Homo sapiens: one gene and its partner. The protein of the gene in region 1 interacts with the protein of each later gene in a pairwise test. Each region holds a gene or a part of one and is shown in the gene's direction. Other genes may lie near its edges.

Region 1 (2,987 bases):
ACCCAGCTAATTTTTGTATTTTTAGTAGAGACGGGGTTTTGCCGTGTTGAACAGGCTGGTCTTGAACTCCTGACCTCATAGAACTCTTAAAAGAATGCATGGTATTGCAGTTTGTTCAAAGTGGAGTGATAGGCAAAGGGGAAGAAGGAACTAATATCCTCTAGCAGTGTATTTTGTACCAAAGAACAAGCATCTTCAGGCTTTCATATACTCTGATCAAAATAACATTTTGCTTAAAATTACAATATAATTTAAATTCATGATTATTAGAAACTTAATATTGTCTCAATTGTGATTATTTTCCTTGGAAGAATATATAGTATAATAAAGATTATTTTAAAATTCATTACAGTGGTTTTTATTTAGAGGCTATGGCATATTGTATTGTATTATTAGAGATGAATTCACTGATAAATTTATCACTGATATAACTAAAACCAAATAGTAAATAATATTCCATTTTTATGAATTCATCATATACAAACTTCAAGCATTATCACAGGTATTCATTAAGTGAAATGCATACAACCCCATCAACCTCATCATTATCAACAAATTCAAAGAAATTTTAATGAATTACTAACATAATATATAGGATTAAATTCAGCCTTGCACATTTCACAGACAGCCAAAAACGGATGCCCCTTTTTTCCCATTAAGTGTGATTTCTGTTGATCCCACAGATGGAGGTCACATTTTTATACCATCTGCACCTCCCTCCACTCTACCCCTCTGCCCCCACAGTGCCCAATGCCACCTTTAAGATGCCATGATATTCCCTGAAGACACTACCTCTCAAGCCATGGCCCCAGCTCCATTCTTCCACCCCTTACTCAACCCAGGTCCAGTGAGCTCAGTGCAGCCAACATCTCAGGACACAGGGGCTGATTCCATCACCTATGTAAAGGAATCCACAAAGCAATGGGGACTGACACCCAAAGGCAGTGACCCCAGCCTGCCATGTTTGTGCACACTTGTGCTGCGTCGCTTAGCACATAGGATGTGATTTAATTGCTCAGTTGTCCATCTGGCCTTCTGAAAAGCTGTGAGCTAGTCAAGGGGAGAAATGTGTTCTGTTTGTCCCCATATTACCAGGCCCCACAAAGGACGTACCCTGGCTTCAGAGCATGTGAGCTGAATGAAGAAAAAAAAGTGGAACAGCAGCCAGAGGGCCTGAACGGTGGATAATTGGACCGTCATCGAGATTTCCTGCTTCCCTTTTGTCATTCCTCAAAATATGCGCCTTAAGAATATGCTGAAAGCCTGGTCCTTGGGAGTGTGTGGTGCTTCCCCTCCCTTTGGGGAGCAAAGGAGGACACATAGTTGGGCTGTGCATCATAATACCCAGGATAAAAGGGCTGAGGCCCTGGGTTCCTCAGTCCACAATCACCTCAGGAAGAACCTTCTCCTGCCTCCACCAAACCAGGTGAGCGTCCAGCTGGCGAGAGGACCTGGGCTGAAAGGGCTGCGCAAACACGTCTGTGCTTCAACAAGGAGAGGGGAGGAGGCAGACACGGTGGAGGCGGCAGAGAGGCTGTGGTGGGTGGCCGGCTGGGACTGGGATGGGAGATGGGCGGGATAGTGAGGAAGACAGACAAGTCTGCGAGCCACTTCAGGGGCTCCGCGATGCTGCGACCTCTGAACCCCCTTTTCCTCATGTGCGCAGAGATGCGTTGCCTCCTCACACCCTGCGCTCACAGGCGTCCAGAGAGACGCCACCCTGGAGGGTCATGGGCGTTGTGTTCACGGGACGCCTGCAGGGGGAGCTGTTCGCATCGGGTCCGGAGGTGTGACAGGCCCCGCAGGGCGTGCGCAGGAGCCCCAGAGGCCCACCCAGGAGTGTCAGCTGCCTCCCAGGCAGGGGAGAGGGCCGGAGGAAGGGGCAGTATCAGGCCGGTTTAACTTCAGATCCGTTTGCATTCCCCTTCCCCAGGTCTTAGCTGGAGGGCAGACTGAGTTTAGGGGAAGGGATCCACAATTAAACCAAAGCATGAGGAGGCCCTGGCCTGAAACCTGCATTGACACGTATTTTGCTTTGCTTTTATTTTGCCCAGGCTCCCTGACCTCCTGCCTAGATGTCCTGCCAGCAGAACCAGCAGCAGTGCCAGCCTCCGCCCAAGTGCCCTGCAAAGAGCCCAGCACAGTGTCTGCCTCCAGCTTCCTCCAGCTGTGCCCCAAGCTCTGGGGGCTGTGGGCCCAGCTCCGAGCGCAGCTGCTGCCTGAGTCACCACAGATGCCGCAGGTCTCACCGTTGCCGTTGCCAGAGCTCCAACTCCTGTGACAGGGGAAGTGGTCAGCAAGGCGGGAGCTCCAGCTGTGGCCACAGTTCTGCGGGCTGCTGCTGACCTGAGCCACGAGATTAAGTAAAAATATTTGAGAAAAGAAAGTGCCAAAATGACTGGAACCAGCCCTAGCCTGGTGCTTCTTTGCTCCTGTCTCCTCTTTCCTACTGAGATGTTCCTTGATGAGTTTCAAGTACTCCCCCAGGGGATTTATCCTGCTGGTCTTAGTGTTTTCCCTCCTTCTTTAATATCCCTGTGCTGTGAAGAATAAAGCTGTGCTTTCTCGTTGCAAGCTCTGTCCAGTGCGTTCCCGTCTTTGCCTTACAGGGGCTGCCCCACATTGGGTACATAGGCCTATCTTAGGAACAGACACAAGTGGGTCATACACCCCTCAACTCACAAAACCCTTTTAGGGGGGTTGTATATTAGTGTGGGAATGAGGTGAGCAGTCTTTCACAAGGTCAAGGACAGAAGCATGAGTTGGAAATAAACACAGAGCTCTGGAAAACAAAGGGAATGAGCTTACTGGGCCCGTTCAGATCCTTCCGAAAACACTTTGGTAGCTCAGCCCTAGATGGCAGAGAAGAAGAGAAGCTCCAGATGGGAGCAGGTCCTTGGTCCTCTGGTTCCTCCAACTCTGATACTCTGTAGTCTTCATGACCCAGGACCACAGCAGCCCCCAGAGCTGTGGCAGCAACTGGAGCC
Region 2 (3,757 bases), on another chromosome or scaffold:
TCATCCGGGATGGGTAATGCTGCTGCAAGAATGGTCTCATCACCCCTAGTTCACATCCGGCCTCTAAGTTCACAGCACACCCAGTCATTTACTAAAACTGCATGGTACCACTGTCAGCAATTTATTAGTTCAGGAACCACTTATTGACATTTTGGAGGTAAAACTAGTGAGGGAGAGGAGAGTCAAAAGTGGCTCCTAGGCCAGGTGCAGTGGTTCACACCTGTAATCCCAGCACTTTGGGAGCCAAGGCGGGTGGATCACCTGAGGTCAGGAGTTCGAGACCAGCCTGGCCAACATGGTGAAACCCTGTCTCTACTCAAAATACAAAAATTAGCTGGGTGTGGTGGCAGGCACCTGTAATCCCAGCTACTCAAGAGGCTGAGGCAGGAGAATCGCTTGAACCCGGGAGGTGGAGGTTGCAGTGAGCCAAGATCGCACCATTGCCCTCCAGCCTGGGTGACAAGAATGAAACTCCTAAAATCTCAAAAAAAAAAAAAAAAAAAAGGCTCCAAGTGGTCTAACCCAGGTGACTGACTAGATGCCATTAACCAAGGTGAAAAGATGTATATAGAAAAGCAGATTTGAGGTTAAAATACTGAATTTGGTCATTCAAAATGACATATTGAATAATTTAATTTTTTAGATACCTGCAGGATGTCTAGGAAGAGAAATTCAGTGGGCATTCAGTGGAAATGCATTATCAATTAGACTCAGGAACACAGTCTGGACTAGAACTGAAGGACAGGGAATCACCAGATTTAGAGATGAAACTGTAGGATTGAGTAACCTGCTAGGAGATGGCAGAGCATGTGTGAAGGTGGAGGTGAGATCCTGTTCATGTGGCTGAGAGTGCAGGGAACAAGGAGCCAGCAAACATAAATTCCTCTTTTAAGAAGTTTGGTAGTCAAGGACAGAGAAGAAATAGTTGGTAGATTTTAGAAGAAAGACATAGATATAGCAGTTTGGCTTTGTGCTTAGTTTTTTTCAGGGGTGGAGGGCAGTGCAGGGTCTTGCTCTGTCACCCAGGCTGGAGTGCAGTGGTGCAAACACAGCTCACTGCAACCTTGATCCTCAGGCTCAAGTGATCTTCCTGTCTCATCCTCCCAAGTAGCCAGGACCATATGCGCACGACCATGCCCAGCTAATTCTTTTTTTTCTAGAGACGAGGTCTCACTTTGTTGCCCAGGCTGGTCCTGAACTCCTGGGCTCAAGTGATCCTCCTGCCTTGGCCTCCCAAAGTGCTGGGATTATAGGTGTGAGACACCATGTTTGGCCCCTGCACTTGTTTTATACAAAAGAGAGTTCCATGGTATTTCCTAAGGATCCTTGGTGGGATCTGTAGGTGTCCTGAGGTACTGATGGAGACCTAGTCCTTTTCATAGGCATTGCCTACATTCCCAGGAAAATTACACTCAAACCCAAATTCATAGCAGTATCTCATGGGCTTCTTCCTTGTTCTCCATGTCAGGTGGGACACAGTCTCAGGTAGGATCAGGAACTGCAGCTTAACCAAAGGGAGAATGGTCCAGTACGAGCAGCTCAGCACCCTCGGGGGCTTGCCCTCTGCTGGGTGGCCTGCAGGCTCTTGGACATTACTATGCTGCTTTTACTCCTCTTGTTTTTCACTACAGCCAGCCTTCACCTGCTGCTATCAATCTCTTGCGCAGTGATATTTCACCCCTTGATATACATAGGATCAACTGAGATGCTTTTTAACAAATAGCAATGCCCCAACCCTGTCCTCTCTATTCCATTCCTATTGTCTTAATTCCCACCTTCATTATCTTTCACCTGGACAGCAAAGCAGCCTCTTAACACAGCCTCCAAAACCTCACCTTTCACATCTCAGCTCCACAGAGCCCCTGGGTGATCCATTCAAACAAAATATGATCTTGTCACATCCCTGCTGAAAACCTCTTAATGGTTCTTTATTAGCTTTGATCAGTAAATCTGCTTCTCAGAAGGTGTGCTTCCAGCCTCAGATTCTTGTAGCCTCCTTAAGCTCATTTTCATAATATGGAAAGTTTGTCATCCTGAGCTACTCTGGACGGCCCGTAGCAAAGGGCATCTGCAGATATGTGGATTTCTTGCCATGCTAAGGTGATTTCTAAAAAACCTTAACATGAAAAGAAGAAGCAACATTTTGTATTTATTTTTTTCAGGGACTAGGTTTACTTTTTTTGCAGTGATAGATTTTTGTTCCTTTTTACTTTTTTTAAAAAATAACTTTAGTAGAGTACTATTCACATACAATAAATAGACATATTTAAAGCATGTAGTTTGACAAGTTCTGATGTGTATACCCATGAAGCCATCACAATAATCAAGATAATGAACATTTTTCTCACTGTAAGTTTTCCCCTGCCCCTTATATTTAGTTTTTGAAAAAATAAGAATATAATCATAACTCACTGAGAAAAACGTAACCTACAATCTTAGTAGAGCTTGTGAAACTTATTTATATATGCATTATTCAGTCTCTTAGTGAAGGACCATTTTATTTTATTTTATTTTATTTCCTTTTTGAGACAGAGTCTCACTCTGTAGCTCAGGCTGGAGTGCAGTGGCGCAATCTCAGCTCCCCTGCAACCTCTGCCTCCCAGGTTCAAGCAAGTCTCGTGCCTCAGCCTCCCAAGTAGCTGGGACCACAGGCATATACCACCACACCCAACTGATTTTTGTACTTTTAGTAGAGATGGGGTTTCGCCGTGTTGGCCAGGCTGATCTTGAACTCCTGACCTCAGGTGATCCACCTGCCTCGGCCTCCCAAAGTGCTGGGATTACAAACGTGAGCCACCACGCCCAACCATATTTACTTTTATTTTAGACAGTTCTAAGAAGCTGCGCTATTTATTTTGCCAGTGCTTAGCACATACAGAAGAGAAAAAATATATATGCTCTAGAAGAAAAAAGCATAGGCAAAAATGTGAAAACCACAGCAGTGTGGCCCTACTTTGTAAGCAGACAAATCATCCCGTCTGTGGTGCTGTACAAGAATGATGTGTGCAAGATCCTCCAGCTCTTGGCATGGCTCATAGGCCATTACCCTCTGACCTCAGCCCCCTCGAGTTTCTGCTCCTGCCAAAGGGAATTATTGACAATTCCCAAACTGTCACTCCTGAACACCCTTCTGACTTTGCGCATGCTGTTTCCTCTGCCTGATATCTTCTTCCCCGCCTTTTCTTCCTGTCTGATCCTTACTGGTTCTTCGAGATTCATGGAGGGTTTACTTCCTCCATGAAGCCTTTCCTGGCACCTTTCTCCATTTGAACTAAAAAATCCTTTTTCCTTTTTCTTCTTCCTCAATTCCTAGCATATGGTAAGGGTCATTAAATATTTGCCAAGTAAATAATTGAATGAGTCTTTATAATAATCATAATTTGGGGCTAGTCCACAAACCTAAAATAAACATAGCTCATTTTACTTATATTTATTAATTGTTTGATTATTCATTTCTTTGATTTTTCATTGTCCTCGGCTTAAATTTAAATCAAGTTGGTTCTCCCCGATATTGAACACATCTGATTCACTTCCCTTTAATTTTGGTTGGCGTATGCTCTGAGAATACAAAATAATTTAACACAAGCCTAAGCAAAATATAGCTAGAAAGTTAATCACTGGAAAAAGAAACATACTAAATTCCAAAATCAAGCATTGAACAAGTTTTCGATAAGCCACTAGTTTTGATTCCATTATACCCTTGTTACTTTCTTTCAGTACATGAATTCGGTGCTCGGAACTAGCATTGTCTAGTCAC

The links.
Region 2: the proteins of LCE3A (region 1) and OIT3 interact in binary tests that used the Homo sapiens proteins (3 or more experiments, as listed by UniProt).

What each region holds. Positions count from the first base shown.
Region 1 is NC_000001.11:152,622,192-152,625,178, reverse strand, and holds LCE3A (late cornified envelope protein 3A), read left to right. Parts: upstream 1-2,075; coding exon 2,076-2,345; downstream 2,346-2,987. UniProt on the Homo sapiens protein: A structural component of the cornified envelope of the stratum corneum involved in innate cutaneous host defense.
Region 2 is NC_000010.11:72,924,632-72,928,388, forward strand, and holds part of OIT3 (oncoprotein-induced transcript 3 protein precursor), read left to right. Parts: coding exon 1-13; intron 14-3,757.